Regions from separate parts of the Homo sapiens genome. Here region 1 is linked to region 2. A link means that fine-mapping ties the variant in region 2 to the expression of a gene that starts in the linked region. Tissue or cell type: whole blood. Region 2 holds a variant in brackets; the other region holds the start of a gene. All regions are shown on one strand. Distances are between the middles of the regions.

Region 1 (8,000 bases), 48 kb after region 2:
ACATTCCAGGTGGATTAAAAATGTAAGTGCAACAAATGAAACCCGAAAACTATCTGAAGGGAAAAAATCTTAATGACTGCCATGGAGTTTCTTAGCACTACAGCAAAGTTAGAAAACGTAGTCTTCATTAATTTTTCCCAAAAGACTGTATAAACCAAGTTGAAAAATATACGGCCAACTGGGAAAATCTTTCTAGCGTGTTTGTTGACAGAAATGTACTACGCAAATAAATCTTACTGATGAATAACAATATAGAAAAATAGAAACACTTCATTACTATTATCTTTTAATTTTAATTTTTATTTTTTGAGGCAGGGTCTCTTTCTGTTGTGCAGGTTGAAGTGCAGTGGCCCAATCTTGGCTCACGGCAGCCTCTACTCGCACTGGAGCCACTCTTCAGCCTGTGGAGCAGCTGGGACCACAGCCGCGCACTACCACTTCCAGCTAATTTTTAAATTTTTTGTAGAGATGGGGTCTCACTGTGTTGCTCTGGCGTGTCTCAAACTCCTCGGCTAAAGCGATCCCAGGTGTTAGCCATCGTGCCCTGCCACTTTATATTTGTTTTAATAGAAAGAAACCTGACCAGGGCCGGACGCCGTGGCTCACGCTTGTAATCCCAGCACTTTGGGAGGCCAAGGCGGGCAGATCACCCGAGGTAAGGGGTTCAAGACCAGCCTGGCCAACATGGTGAAACTCCTTCTAACTACTAAAAATAAAAAAATTAGCCGTCCTGGTGGGCGTCTGTAATCCCAGCTACTTGGGAGGCTGAGTCAGGAGATTCTCCTGAACCCGGGAGGCGGAGGTTGCAGTCAACTGAGATTGTGCCACTGCATTCCAGCCTGGGCGGCAGAGTTAGACTCCGTCTCAAAAAAAATAAAAATAAATAAATAAAAAGAAACCTGACTAGTTTCACACAAACACACACACAAAATTTTGAATGGCCAGTAAATATTTTAAAACATAATCTTCGGCCGGGCGAGATGGCTCATGCCTGTAATTCCAGCACTTTGGGAGGTAGAGGCGGGCGCATCACGAGGTCAGTATCACTGGGCGTCGTGGTGCCCACCTGTAATCCCAGCAACTCGAGAGGCTGAGGCAAGGAGAATCGCTTGAACCCGGGAGGCAGAGGTTGCAGTGAGCCGAGATCACGCCACTGCACTCCAGCCTGGGCGACAGAGCGAGACTGTCTCAAAAAAAAAACAAAAAAAACAAAAAAAACAGGCCGGGCGCAGTGGCTCATGCTTGCAATCCCAGCACTTTGGGAGGCCAAGGCGGGCAGATCACGAGGTCAGGAGATCGAGACCATCCTTGCTAACACGGTGAAACCCCGTCTCTACTGAAAATCCAAAAAAAAAAAAAAAAAAATTAGCGGGGCGTGGTGGCGGGCGCCTGTAGTCCCAGCTACTCCGGAGGCTGAGGCAGGAGAATGGCGTGAACCCGGAAGGCGGAGCTTGCAGTGAACAGAGATCGCGCCACTGCACTCCAGCCTGGGGGACGGAGCGAGGCGCTGTCTCAAAAAAAAAAAAGTAATAATAATAATAATAATCACCAATTGAAAAGTACTTACAGAAAGCCTAATGATAAAGGTTTTTACCTTTATCATTTAAAATTATTTTTTATTGGGTTTCTATTTTTCTTTTATCTTTTATTTTTATTTTTATTTTTTTTTATTTTATTATTTTTTTTTTGACAAAATCTCGCTCTGTCGCCCAGACTGGAGTGCAGTGGCGCAGTGTCGGCTCGCTGCAGCCTCTGCCTCCCTGGTTCCACCGATTCTCCTGCCTCTGCCTCCCCAGTAGCTGGGACTACAGGTGTGTGCCACCTCGCAGGCAAATTTTTGTATTTTTGTTAGAGACAGGGTTTTACCATGTTGGCCAGGCTGGTCTCAAACTCCTGACCTCAGGTGATCCACCCGTTTTGGCCTCCTAGAGTGCCCGGATTATAGGCAGTGAGCCTGCGGAAGCCCTTTTTTTTTTGAGACAGTCTCATTTGCTGAAGCTTTTTTTTTTTTTTTTTTTTTGAGATGGAGTTTTGTTCTTGTTGCCCAGGCTGCAGTGCAATGGCACAGTCTCGGCTCACGGCAGCCTCCACCTCCTGGGTTCAAGCGATTATCCTGCCTCAGCCTCCCGAGTAGCTGAGTTTACAGGCATGCGCCACCACGCCCAGCTAATTTTGTATTTTTAGTAGAGCCGGGGTTTCTCCATGTTGGTCAGGCTGGTCTCGAACTCCAGACCTCAGGTGACCCGCCCACCTTGGCCTCCCAAAGTGCTGGGATTACAGGCGTAAGCCGCCGCGCCTGGCCTGCTGAAGCCTTCAAATCCATACAATCATATGATTTTACTCCTGTGTGCTTGGCAGGCATCTTTCCAATTTTATGAACACTTTCTTACATTACTAGTATGCCATTGTTACCTGTAACAAAATTAACTTCTTAGTATCATCCAACAGTAAGTGTGTAATCAAACGTTCCAATTGTCTCAAAATGTGTTTTTACAGTTGGTTTATTTGTATCAGGATCCAAACAAAGACCACACACATATTTAGACATTATGTCTCAAGTTTCTTTTCATCTAGAGCAGCCCCCTCTTTTATGCCTGTGTAACTAACATTTTAATAAAGTTGTAAGGAAGATAAAAGTAATCCAGAGAAAGGAAAAAAAATATCAATAGGCAAGAAGGAAGATTAAAATGGTACCTAGGCCAGGCATGGTGGCTCCTGCCTGTAGTCCCAGCACTTTGAGAGGCTGAGGTGGGTGGATCATTTGAGCCAAAGAGTTTGAGACCAGCTTGGGCAACATGGCGACACCCTGTCTCCACAAAAACTACAAAAATTAGCTGGACGTGGTGGGGGCACACCTGTAATCCCAGCTACTCAGGAGGCTGAGGCAGGAGAATCGCTTGAATCCTGGAGGCGGAGGTTGCAGTTAGCCGAGATGGTTCCACTGCACTCCACCTTGGGCGACAGAACGAGACCCTGTCCCCTCTCCCAAAAAAAAAAAAAAGAGAAAAAGATGTACTTTAGGAAGTAGGAAAATTAAAAATTATGCTAGAAAGATGGGCTGATCTGCAAGAAGGAAGAGGAAGGGAAAAATGAATCATAAATACTTTTGTCATTACAAGTAAATGCTGCCTGTGTAAAATAATAAAAATATTCATAAGGGCATTTTAAAAAGTCAGTAAAATGCTGTCCCAGCACTAGTTGGCTAGTCTGGAGGAGTTCAACAACCTAATGTACATCAATACAGAATTGGTCAAATCAATTTGTCACATCCATAAAATAGATTATAAAAATACATTATTAAGATGAAATAGACATACTTTTTCATGGCAAAAAAGAAAGTGTGGAAATGTTAGTATATTGATCATCTTTGTGAAAACGTATGAATAGTCTACGTTAAACTGTATTTTAGGAAAAAAATTGGGGAAGGGATTTTTCACATTTTACATGGTATGCTATCATGTATAAATTCATTACAGAAATGATATTATTTTTATTATTCTGGAAAATAAAGGATTTCCTTGTTTTCTTTTTTCTAATAACAAAAACAACCTTTTTTTTAGTGGTTACTAGGCAACGATCGCTGGACTCAACCACCCTCGAAGGTTGTAGGGGAGATGGTGTTTTTCTCGATTTCGCCCCAAGGAGGGTGCTCGGACTTCGACGTGCCGCCATCTTTGAGCAGGGCACAGCTGTTTACAGCCTTGGAATGGATATCAGGCTGAATGGTGGTTGCTTGGCAACGCCCCGCCACGGTCGCCATCTTTGAGTAGGGCACATTGTTTACTACTATATACTGGAAACCTACAGGGAATGTGGTTGCTAGGCAATGCTTTGGGACCATCGCAATCTTTGATCCGGGCACAGCTGTTTTTTCCGTTTAGAATGTAAATCATCAAAGCCTACAGGATGGTGGCTAGGCAACGCCTTGGCGCAGTCATCATCTTCAATCCGGCTTCTTGGTTCTCTTTACCTCCTCGGAGAAACTAGAAAGCTTTGCAAATTCAATTTGCCGCCATCTTTGTTAGGGGTACCGTGACTTCCGGCTAGGGCGGAAGAGAACCTAATGGGTTTGGGGGAGGTGCCTGAATAGGGTTTGAGGGTCTGTTTGAGTTGGGTGAAGAAGGCGGGAAGTTAATCCTCTTCCAATCAGCTCCCCATCTCGCCCTCTGGCGGCTCCGGACCACAGGCCGAGTTACTCTGATTACCGCCATGCTCCAAGACCCGCACTGACAGTCCCCACGTGAGGGACCGCGGTGGGAGTCCTAAATGGGGGAGGAGGGGACGGGCGGCACTGTGCATCTGCTGTGCCTCGCGGCCTCCAGCGGGGTCCCCCTATTCTGCAGGAGCAGTCGCGGCGGCGCCCCCGCCCGTCAGCAGGTGGGGCCTTGGACGCCTGTATCTAAACCGAAGGGGGTTCGGTGTTTTGACTCTGGGTCTTCAAGGCAGTAGGGGCTGGGGAAGTTTCAGTGTTGAATTTGTAGGACCGAGGAGGCAATGGACCAATAAGCCTGGTTCCCCAAAGAGGCACTGCCAGGTCATATGGAAAGAGGATGGGGCTGGGAGCTGGCACACTTGGGTCCTAAGGGGGAAGGGGATGGGGGGGTGCTCTTGTCTGATGTCCCTAACCCCTCCTTAGCTCCCGTTCTCTGTCATCGGTTCCCTCAATGGAGTCCACATGTTTGGGCAGAATCTGGAGGTGCAGCTGAGCTCTGCGAGGACCGAGAACACGACTGTGGTGTGGAAAAGCTTCCATGACAGGTCCCCAGGAGGGAACGTGGGACAGGGACAGGGCCTGGGTGATAGTCCCTGTTGAAGATGACCCCGGAGGCCTTCCAGCTCTCTAAAAGCAGCTGTTAATTTGGCTATGGGATCTTTAGCAAGCCAGTTACCCTCTTTGATCCCTGATGTTCTCTATAAGAAAGGCAGGTTGGTCTGAGAGAGGATGTATCTGGTGTTCTAGGATCAATGGGCGGACTCCAACATACCCCTTCCTGATTCCCCAGGCCTTGACTCATTCTTCTCACTTCCATTCCACAGCATCACCCTCATTGTTCTGTCATCTGAGGTGGGCATCTCTGAGCTGAGGCTGGAGAGACTACTCCAAATGGTGTTTGGAGCCATGGTGAGACTCACCAGTCCTCTTTTCTCCCCAGACCAGGAATCTGAGATCTCAGCATCCTTTTCCCTCAGACCTAGGAGTGCAGACCACCAACACTTCCTTCCTCAGAACCCAGGAATCTTTTGTTTGTTTGTTTGTTTTGTTTTGAGACGGAGTCTCGCTCTGTTGCCCAGGCTGGAGTGCAGTGGCTTGATCTCGGCTCACTGCAACCTCTGCCTCCCAGGTTCAAGCGATTCTCGTGCCTCAGCTTCCCAAGTAGCTGGGATTACAGGCACGTGCCACCATGCCCAGCTAATTTTTGTATTTTTTGTAGAGACGGGGTTTCACCATATTGGCCAGGCTGGTCTCAAACTCCTGACCTCAAGTGATCCACCCACCTTGGCCTCCCAAAGTGCTGGAATTACAGGCATGAGCCTCCGCGCCCGGCCAGAACCCAGGAATCTTGACTCCCCAGTCCCCAGACCCAGAAGTGGGAGTCCCAGCCCCCTCTTCCTTCAGACCCAGGAGTTCAAGTCCCAGCCCCTCGCCCATCCTCTCCTATATGATTCTTCTAGGTCCTTCTTGTGGGACTTGAAGAACTGACCAATATCCGCAACGTGGAGAGACTGAAGAAGGACTTGAGGGTGAGGTTGCAGGACATGAGGGTGGGAAGTTAGGATACCTGGGCACTGCCATTTGGGAACTACAGTTCCCAGCAGCCCCTGGGGCAGCCTGGTCCCACAGGTTCTTGGTTGTCTGACCCTGGGCCCACTTGAATCCTAGGCTGGTCCCTTCTTCCTCTCCTAGGCCAGTTATTGCCTCATCGACAGCTTCCTGGGGGACTCGGAGCTCATCGGGGACCTGACCCAGTGTGTGGACTGCGTGATTCCTCCAGAGGGGTCCCTCTTGCAGGTACTGGGGATGCTATGGAAACTCTTACACCTGTTCTGCTGGCCCTGGCTCAGTCCTCATCCTCTTTCTTCTGGACCATTGTCCCAACCTCCTCCTATCCTCTCAGCTTCCAGTCCTATCCCCACCTGGTCCCAGAAGAATCTTTTTTCTTTTTTTTTTTTCTTTTCTTTCTCTTTCTTTTCTTTTTTCTTTTCTTTCTCTCTTTTTATTTGAGACGTAGTTTCACTCTTGTTGCCCAGGCTGGAGTACAATGGCACCATCTCGGCTCACTGCAGCCTGCGCCTCCCGGGTTCAAGTAATTCTCCTGCCTCAGCTTCCCGAGCAGCTGGGATTACAGGCGCCCACCACTACGCCCGGCTAATTTTTTGTATTTTTAGTAGAGACAGGGTTTCACCATGTTGGCCAAGCTGGTCTCGAACTTCTTACCTCAGGTGATCCACCTGCCTTGGCCTCCCACAGTGCTGGGATGACAGGCGTGAGCCACTGCGCCTGGGCCATCTTTCTTTCTTTTCTGAGACAGGGTCTTGCTCTGTCATCCAGGCTAGAGCACAGTGGCTCAGTCATAGCTCACTGCAGCCTTGAACTCCTGGATTCAAGTGATCCTCTCATCTCAGCCTCCCCAGTAGCTGACACTATAGGCACTGTGCCACCACATTCAGCTATTTTTTTTTTTTTTTTTTTTTTGAGACAGAGTCTTACACTGTCACAGGGGCTGGAGTGCAATGGCGCAATCTTGGCTCACTGCAACCTCTGCCTCCTGGGTTCAAACGATTCCCCTGCCTCAACCTCCCGAGTAGCTAGGATTATAAGCGCTGGTCACCACGCCTGGCCCAGCTAATTTTTTGTATTTTTAGTAGAGACAGGGTTTCACTATGTTGGCCAGGCTGGTCTTGAACGCCTGACCTCGTGATCCACCCGCCTCAGCCTCCCAAAGTGCTGGGATTACAGGCATGAGCCACCGCGCCCGGCTGACATTCAGCTATTTTTTTTTTTAAGAGATGGACTAGGGTTGGGGATGGGTTTCCATTAAGTTGCCCGGGCTGGTCTCGAACTCCTGGGCTCAAGCAGTCCTCCCGCCTCAGCCTCCCATAGTGCTGGGATGACAGGTGTGAGCCATCACACCCGGCCACCAGAAGAACCCTACTATATCCAGAGCTGGCTCTGCCCCTTTCCTGCTCACAGCCCTCCGGCAGCCTCCACCTCCCCCAGGACAAGGTCCCAGCTCCTCAGCCTGGTGTTTGAAGGCCTGTGGCACCTGGCACCCCCTAACCTGTTGCTAAATCCACAGTCTACTTCCACCCAGCTACCTCACAGTCCTGAGATCCCAACAAGTTTCCAACCTCAGTGCATGTTCTTCCTCCTGCCTCTCAGATCTCTAGCTACCTCTACTTAAATACTGCTCTTGTGGACTTGCCTGGTGTGGCGGCCTCCCAGGCATGTGACTCTCAGCAGGTGACTTGGCTTCTCTACGTTGCTAATGGTGCCTACTCGGCATGTAACAGGCCTGGATGAACGGTAGCTGCTGCGGTTACATTATTAGCTTCAGTTTGCCCGCCCAGGCTAGATGTTTAATCAGATTTCACAGACTTCACAGTGTGAGTTGGGGATGTGACTTCGTATGAAAGTGAAGGAACTCAGGCTCAGAGAGGGTGAGACGTAGGAGCATGGCCACTGCGCGAGCTCGGGGCTGGCTGTGGGTTTCTCCCCATTCCCTGCCCATCTGGGAAGTCGCTGCCACCCCCTACGCTTGTCTGCTGACTCCCAGTCCTCCTGCCTCCCGTACCCAGGAAGCCCTCTCCGGGTTCGCTGAGGCCGCGGGCACGACCTTCGTCAGTCTGGTGGTGTCCGGCCGGGTGGTGGCAGCAACAGAGGGTTGGTGGCGGCTGGGGACGCCCGAGGCCGTGCTGCTCCCCTGGCTGGTGGGGTCCCTGCCGCCGCAGACCGCTCGCGACTACCCGGTGTACCTGCCGCACGGGAGCCCCACGGTGAG
Region 2 (8,000 bases):
CCGGGACCCAGGAGTTGAAGCCGGGGTTGGAGGGCTCTCTGGGGGTGGGGGACACACTGTATTTGGTCAATGGCCTCCACCCACTGACCCTGCGCTGGGAAGAGACCCGCACACCAGAATCCCAGCCAGATACTCCGCCTGGCACCCCTCTGGTGTCCCAAGATGAGAAGAGAGATGCTGAGCTGCCGAAGAAGCGTATGCGGAAGTCAAACCCCGGCTGGGAGAACTTGGAGAAGTTGCTAGTGTTCACCGCAGCTGGGGTGAAACCCCAGGGCAAGGTGAGGGCCACGCCGAGGGCTGAGGGAGCCGCCACAGACTGGGACCCAATCCCACGTTTGTTGCGTGCTCTCAACTTTTTAGCCTCTACTTACTTTTCTGAGAAATGGGCCTAATGATAAATGCAGGGATCGTTGTAAGCAGTTAAGCAGTGGGGAGAATGATATATGTCAGCTCCTGCGTTACCCACAGTGACCACCCAGTAATCAGCAATGACCATGACTGTCTCAGTAGGAGCTATTACGATGAGGATTTTTTATGTCCAGAGAGACTTGAGTTCAAATGCTGTTACCACCACATTCTGAGTCCCATGTGTCTCATCTCTACGATGCTGAATCCATAAAAAAAGCACGTGGCATAGTTCCTGACATGCAGTTAGCACCCAAAGCTTTGCTCCTGCTTTTATTTTCACGGTTATTAGCCCACCGAGGTGGTGAAGGCCAGGGGAAGAAGGAGGCTGGGTAAGACATTAACCCCCATTTTAAAGACTGTAATCCTGGGGCTGGCGTCATAAGGAGTAACAGGAGACAGTAAGGTTAAGATGTCGGGCCCCACTCAGAGGCATCACGGATGCTTGAGATGGAGGTGCTCTGTGACTCGGTTTCCCCATCTGTGAGATGGCAGTGATAACACCCTGCCTGGCAGGGTTGGTGTGAGTCAGCCTGTGAGTGAGGAGGGTCAGAGGTATCACAGTGCTGCTGTTTGTCTTTCCTTGGTGACACCAGGTGGCTGGCTTTGATCTGGACGGGACGCTCATCACCACACGCTCTGGGAAGGTCTTTCCCACTGGCCCCAGTGACTGGAGGTGATAAGAGGCAAAACAAGGGAGTGAGTGAGGCCTGGAGTCCACCTCTGGCCCCGGGTCACCCCTGCCGCTTCATACCTGCCGTAGGATCTTGTACCCAGAGATTCCCCGTAAGCTCCGAGAGCTGGAAGCCGAGGGCTACAAGGTATGTGCAGCCGCCTGTCTGCATGGGCACGTGCACGTGGCGGTCCGACCGCAGTCAGACCAAGGCCCTGGTGAGCAGAGCGTCTGGTGACACCCTTTGCTCCCCAGCTGGTGATCTTCACCAACCAGATGAGCATCGGGCGCGGGAAGCTGCCAGCCGAGGAGTTCAAGGCCAAGGTGGAGGCTGTGGTGGAGAAGCTGGGGGTCCCCTTCCAGGTATGGCTGGAAGGGAGGCTGGGAGCTATGTGGGGGCACAGAGATCCAGAGCGAGGGCTTTAGACTCCAGGGTAAGCGGGGCGGAGGCCTCAGGCAGTGTGATGCTGATAGGAACCCATCATCAGCTACAAATTCTGGGCTGGGGTGGCATCCAGTAGGTGCTTGAGGGGGAGCTAAAGCTGGTGGCCCCCTCCCATCCACAGGTGCTGGTGGCCACGCACGCAGGCTTGTACCGGAAGCCGGTGACGGGCATGTGGGACCATCTGCAGGAGCAGGTGAGTCTTGCAGCCTGCCCGGCCCCCCTCCTTTTCCTCACTCCAGCCCCTCACTCCTGGGCTCCCCGGCCTCCGGTTGGGGCCTCCTTACTCCTCTGTCCTCTCTCGCTCCCTCCTTCTGTTTTTTGCTGTGACATCTTAGATGTTGGTTTACGAGACCAGTGCTTTCAGACTTTCTACATCAGAGTAGTAGGGAAGCTGTTCATTCCTTCGTTCATTCGTTTGTGTGTGCATTTGTTCTGAAGTTTAGCGCATTCTTGAGCTGAAGGTATCAGTGAGCGGGACGGCCTGCTCCAGCAGGGCCCTCACGGCGAGGGCGGTGACTCTAGGCGGATGGGCAGACTGGCGTGTAAAACAGCAGGAGGGAGGGAGCTGGAGAAAGCAGGCATCACCCGTGGTGGGCAGGGATGGCCTCTGAGGAGGTGACATCAGAGGAAAAGGCCTAAGGCAGGGAAAGGAGGGAGCCAGGTGGACACCTGGGGAAAGCGGTCCCCCCCCTTGTGGGAGTGACAGCAAGTGCAAAGGCCCTGAGGCAGTCCCTAGCCTGGGCTAGTTAGGGACAGCGAGGCCCATGCGGCTGGCTCTAAGCGAGGGAGGGGAGAGGGCAGGGCCACAGGGAGGGCCCCGCTTTTGCCCTGAGGGAGGGGGAACCTGGGAGGCGCCGGCACGCCGGAGGCTGGAGCTGTAGCAGGGTGGGTGCCCTCCGGTGGCCGCGTGGGGAACGGGAGGAGGTGAAGTCGGGAGACCTGGAGGGAGGGGGCTGTGTGGAGAGACCACGGAGGGGGGAGGGGGCCAGGAGCACGGTGCAAAGTGGCTGGAGAGTGAGGACATGAAAGGTCGGGGGATGATTCCTGATGTGGGGCACAGACCAGGCGAAGCAGCCCCAGGGACCCGCTACCGCTGCGGGGGGACATTTGTGGGAAGGGCCTCCTCACTACCGTCTCCCGTAGGCCAACGACGGCACGCCCATATCCATCGGGGACAGCATCTTTGTGGGAGGTAAGGGCCTGGAGGCTGCTGAGGGTGGGCTGGGACGCCTCCCTCCGAGCTGGTGGGAACGGGGTGTCCCGTGTGTTCCAGACGCAGCCGGACGCCCGGCCAACTGGGCCCCGGGGCGGAAGAAGAAAGACTTCTCCTGCGCCGATCGCCTGGTGAGGCCCCTGCCCCCTGCCCCGCGCCCGAGCCCGACCCTGGCCTGTGTCTGATGTTCGTCCTCAACCCCTAGTTTGCCCTCAACCTTGGCCTGCCCTTCGCCACGCCTGAGGAGTTCTTTCTCAAGTGGCCAGCAGCCGGCTTCGAGCTCCCAGCCTTTGATCCGGTGAGGCCCTGGGGCGGGGGTGGGGGTGGGGATGGGAGGGCTCCCGGGGATGGGGACGGCATCTCACGCGTGTCCCCCGCCCCTCGCAGAGGACTGTCTCCCGCTCAGGGCCTCTCTGCCTCCCCGAGTCCAGGGCCCTCCTGAGCGCCAGCCCGGAGGTGGTTGTCGCAGTGGGATTCCCTGGGGGTAAGTGTCCTGTTCCTGTGCGCGTGCCCTGAGCCCCGCCTGGGTCCTAGGCCACCCACCGACACTGCCCCCCACACAGCCGGGAAGTCCACCTTTCTCAAGAAGCACCTCGTGTCGGCCGGATATGTCCACGTGAACAGGGTATGACCAGGCTTTTGCCGCCCCAAATCTATTATAAAGTTCCCATCTCCACCTCTCAACTGGTTTGGGGCGGCTTTCCTCCATCATTGCCTCCCCGTCCCCGCTCGGGGTCTTCTCTCCCCCTGGGTCTGCCGATCTGTTTGTGACCTCTCGTGTCCCCAGGACACGCTAGGCTCCTGGCAGCGCTGTGTGACCACGTGTGAGACAGCCCTGAAGCAAGGGAAACGGGTCGCCATCGACAACACAAACCCAGACGCCGCGAGCCGCGCCAGGTAGCGTGACCGCGGGGCCGTAGGTGGCCTGCGGCGGGGTGGGCGGGGCCTGCACATCCAGCTCCTTCCCCCACAGGTACGTCCAGTGTGCCCGAGCCGCGGGCGTCCCCTGCCGCTGCTTCCTCTTCACCGCCACTCTGGAGCAGGCGCGCCACAACAACCGGGTGAGCCCGCTCAGCCCGGACACCCCCCGGGCTGCACCCCCTGACCCCCCTCCTCCCCTGACCCCTGGGCCTGCCGCCCCTCTGATGTTCCCCACAGTTTCGAGAGATGACGGACTCCTCTCATATCCCCGTGTCAGACATGGTCATGTATGGCTACAGGTACTGTTGGGGATAGCAGGGGGCAGGGGCACTGGCTGGGCCACATGATCCAGGCTGTCCCTCACTGTTCCCACCACTGCCAGGAAGCAGTTCGAGGCCCCAACGCTGGCTGAAGGCTTCTCTGCCATCCTGGAGATCCCGTTCCGGCTATGGGTGGAGCCGAGGCTGGGGCGGCTGTACTGCCAGTTCTCCGAGGGCTGAGCCCCGCCCAGCTCCCCTCCACAATAAACGCTGTTTCTCCTTGAGCTTGGCCGGCATTTTGCTGGAAGGAGGGTGGTCCCCACGGGGGAGGGGCTCCAGGCCTGCCAGTTTCTTACATGGAGGAGGCTTTAAGGACATTTTCAGGTAACAAAAGGTGGGGCCCTACCGAGGGGAGTCCAGCTGGGACCTGGCATGAGCACTTTAGACATTAGCCGGGGAACACACAGGGAGGGCGCTGTGTGGCCCCCC[G/CG]AGAGCCAGCTGGTGAGCCCACGAGCCTCAACCGAGGGGCTGGCTCAAGGCCAGGTGTGACCCCTGAGGACAAAATCCAGCTCAGGTTCTGTGACACTGAACTTGAACCCAAGGCCTGCGGGTCTGGAGATTCGGGGGGGAAGAGGGTGTGGACAGCCGAGAGCCAGACCCAGTGAGTTCCCGGGCTGTCCAGCCTGCTGGGCCACCTTAGAGCTAGGGGGCTGCAAGGCATCGGGCAGTGAGCAGAGAAGGCAGGCAGGTTTTTAAAAGGCTTTATTGGGGAAACGTAGAGGGGTGGGGACCGTCCTTGGAGGCCTCAGGACACCATCCTCCATGTTGCTGGGCAGTTGAAGTCCCCAGGGGCCCCTGCTCAGAAGCGTGTCACCTGGGGGCAGGGGTGCAGTGGGGGCTGCTGGCCACAGGCTCCCAAGCACTGACCCCACATCCCTGTGAGCAGAGGCCTGGCCCCACCCAGGCCTGGATACCACCTCCCATGGCCCTGAGGCTGGGCTGCAGTTTCCCGACAGCCTAGGACCGCTGGGACTGCTGCCTCTCCCTCTGCTCTGCTCTCCCCAAGGCCAAGGTCGCCCTGCTTCTTTCCCAACCCCACCCCCCCCACATGCCCCAGGGTCCCTCCTGTACATGACAGGGTCACCACTCACCAGTCTCTGCGGGGGCCTCATCTGTGACTCCTGGAGGGGCCCAGCCCGGGGTAACCACTACCCCCCCATCTACGGCGAGAAATCAGAGGCCAGTGGTGAGCAGGCAGCGGGGGTGGAGGGAGACTGAGCAGCCCTGGAGGCCGGCCACCTCACCCCTCGTTGCTGTTGCTCCTGCTCCAGGTTCCGCTGCAGGACCTGCTGCTGGTTGGCAATGACACGCCGGATGCCGTTGACAAAGTTGCCCTGGTCATGGGGGATGAGGCCAATGAAGATTTTCTTCTCTGAAGAGTACAGGAGCATAAGCACGCGGATCTCACACGATGCTTTGTAGGAAAAGTGCACGCAGCCGGCCTGGCAGGCACAGGGCGTGGTGTCACCAGACAGCACCACAGGGACCAGCATCCCTCCAACCACGGCATCATGCCGTGGGCTCCATGAGCCAGGCACAGCCTAACTGCTCTGTCCTCACACCCCCCACCCACCCTGGAGGTGGGCCCCCTTATTGGGATGACACGGTGGCCAAGAGCAATGGGTGGGCCAAAGGCCAACAGGCTCTGTCGGGAAGGGCCCAAGAACCTGCATTTCAGAGCTCCTGGGCAGGCCAGGCTGTGTCTGGGGCCACCTCACCACAGCCACCTGAGCCAACCGGCCATGGCTTCAACTCAGGAGCCCGAGGGATCTGCAGCGGCCGGCCCAGCACAAGCAAGGGCTGAGGTACATGGAGCCTTTCTGGGTTTCCTTGAGGAAACTTTTTTTTTTTTTTTGAGACTGAGTTTCGCTCTTGTCGCCCAGGCTGGAGTACAATGGCATGATCTCAGCTCACTGCAACCTCTGCCTCCCGGGTTCAAGCCATTCTTGTGACTCAGCCTCCTGAGTGGCCATCATGCCTGGCTAATTTTTGTATTTTTAGTAGAGACGGGGTTTCACCATGTTGGCCAGGCTGGTCTCAAACTCCTGACCTCAGGTGATCCACCCGCCTCGGCCTCCCAAAGTGCTGGGATTGCAGGCGTGAGCCACCGCACCCGGCCCCTGAGGGAATGCTTGAAATTGCTTTCATGTAAAAGCACCTACACCCAGGCCCCCCCCACCCACGAACAGCTTCGTGGACAGTTTACTCAGACTGAGTCGAAGGTAATTTTAAGGTAGTTTCGGGATATTACCCAAGTATGGCCCAGCTGGAAGGTGGACATCGGGGGGAGGGCTCAGAAACACCAAAGTCCAACCTTCTCCACCTCACAGATGGAGAAACTGAGCCCGAGAGAGAGAAGAGGAGTCAGCTGAGCCTCCCCCAGATAAGACAATCGCCAAATATTCTGGGACCTTGCTGGGGGCAGACAGCCCTCCCTGCCCAGCAATGGGCCTTTGGGATGTGGCACAAGCTCCCGGGAAACCAGGAGTGACAAGGGCGCCTGTCCCTGAGGAGTGGAGAGCGCGGAGTTGGTGCTGAGTCAGCCCTGATGTGGCAGAGGAGGAGCAGGCCCCCGCAGAACCAGGGTCAGTGCCCCATCCAGTGCCGTGGGGACAGCACAGAGCCCCCAGAAGTCACGCCCACACTAGCCACCCTCTCTCCCCAGCTGGTCTGGGACATGGTGCTCTGTTCCTCTCCCATGTCCGCCCCCGTGAGCGGTCCGGGCTCGCTCTGCCCTGGCCGGCCCCTCCCCTGCGTCTGCTGGCACCACTCACGAAGCCATTGTCCATGATCCGGCACAGGCTCTTCAGTGTCTCCAGGTCCTTGGTGAAGTGGAACTGGACCAGGCGCGAGTTCCGGAACAGCGGCACTAGGGTGGTCTGCGGGGAAGCGAGGGGACCCCCAGCTCTGGCTTCTCCCACCACGGCCTCCCGGCTCCCAGCCCGCTGAGTCCCCCGGGCCCAGGACCAAACTGAGACTCCCCTGTCCTCCCTACCTCAGGAAACGTCATCTCCACCGCTCAACCAGCCCAACCCTGGAGTGCTGTGGAAGCCGCTCTCAGATCCCTTGGCAGCCCCCCAGGTGCAGGTCGTGGCTGCCCCTGCCCCGCTCAGTCCCTGCACAGCCACCAGCTGGCTGCCTGGGACCCCTTGAAGCCAAGCCTGAGGAGCTACCCACCACACCTGCTTCAGCACCCTCAGCTCCGCTCCCTCACAGCCAGCTCAGGCCACCTGGGGAGGCGCTCTTGCCCCCAGCCCCGCCCTCTGGAAGAGCTACTGCGTGCAGGCTCCAGCACCCGGCCCCAGCCCCTCACCAGCAGCTGCTGCGGGATGAGCTGCATGTACAGCTTCCTTGGCCACTGCTCGGTCCTCCTGTGGGGCACAAAGGGACGAGGGTCAGGAAGCCCCAGCTCCCCTGGATGCTGCCTCCACCCCCCAGCCCAGCACTCACAGGATCTCCCCCTGGTTCACGTAGACGTGGGATGGCAGCCACCTCTTGGACCGACTGTTGGGCTCAGGCCTGGGCTTTTGGGGGAGAGGCAAAGAGGAGCCCTCAGGGCTGGAGACCCCCAATGCCAGTGTCCCCTCCCAGCCACAGTCCGTGAGGATCTGGGGGTCCCAAGTCCCTGGGCTGCCGAGTGCTCACCTCCTGCCACTCCATGACACCACTCCATGCCAGAAACTTGTTGTTGACGATCTGGACTGGGCCTGAGTTGACACCACCAGGTCCCACTGCCTGTTGGAAGGGAACGGGGTGGGAAGAGGGGCCCAGGCTCCTGGGAAACCTGTCTGTCTGTCCTGGGGCCTGCCATCCCTCCCTCCGAGCCTTGGCCTGTTAGCCCCAGCTGGGTCCATTCTCTAGTCCCAGGGGAACAGGCCCTGCCCCTCATCTGCTCACAGCCCCCCATGGCTCCCCAGTGGCCTGAGACAGGTCCCGGCCCTCACCTGGTGCACAGGACCTGCAGAGTCTGCCTCAACTGGCAAGGCATGACCAGGACACGTGGTTACCAGGCAGGGCCTTCCA

Evidence for each region. PIP is the estimated chance that this variant, and not a neighbour inherited with it, causes the effect.
Region 1: it holds the start of FUZ, and the variant in region 2 is fine-mapped to the expression of FUZ in whole blood (INTERVAL, PIP above 0.99).

Annotation. Positions count from the first base shown.
Region 1 is chr19:49,809,373-49,817,372 of GRCh38, reverse strand. It overlaps FUZ (fuzzy planar cell polarity protein), which reads left to right and starts at 4,081. Exons shown (of 11, transcript NM_025129.5): 1 at 4,081-4,377; 2 at 4,637-4,758; 3 at 5,038-5,122; 4 at 5,674-5,742; 5 at 5,906-6,010; 6 at 7,798-7,995. The coding sequence starts at 4,267. LOC105372435 (a long non-coding RNA gene) reads right to left here. Exons shown (of 2, transcript NR_187900.1): 2 at 7,547-8,000. RefSeq lists enhancers at 3,518-3,567, 3,778-4,017, 3,404-4,210 and a silencer at 7,877-8,000.
Region 2 is chr19:49,857,405-49,865,404 of GRCh38, reverse strand. PTOV1 (PTOV1 extended AT-hook containing adaptor protein) reads right to left here. Exons shown (of 12, transcript NM_001394010.1): 7 at 7,623-7,712; 8 at 7,428-7,501; 9 at 7,291-7,348; 10 at 6,752-6,856; 11 at 5,222-5,419; 12 at 4,663-5,137. The coding sequence ends at 5,126. PNKP (polynucleotide kinase 3'-phosphatase) reads left to right here. Exons shown (of 17, transcript NM_007254.4): 4 at 1-278; 5 at 1,002-1,081; 6 at 1,169-1,226; 7 at 1,334-1,441; 8 at 1,645-1,716; 9 at 2,667-2,715; 10 at 2,797-2,867; 11 at 2,942-3,034; 12 at 3,124-3,220; 13 at 3,300-3,361; 14 at 3,524-3,633; 15 at 3,710-3,797; 16 at 3,895-3,956; 17 at 4,040-4,201. The coding sequence ends at 4,157. PTOV1-AS2 (PTOV1 antisense RNA 2) reads left to right here and starts at 6,116. Exons shown (of 5, transcript NR_110730.1): 1 at 6,116-6,199; 2 at 6,308-6,562; 3 at 6,779-6,851; 4 at 6,978-7,058. The variant G/CG (reference allele first, on the strand shown) is at 4,407.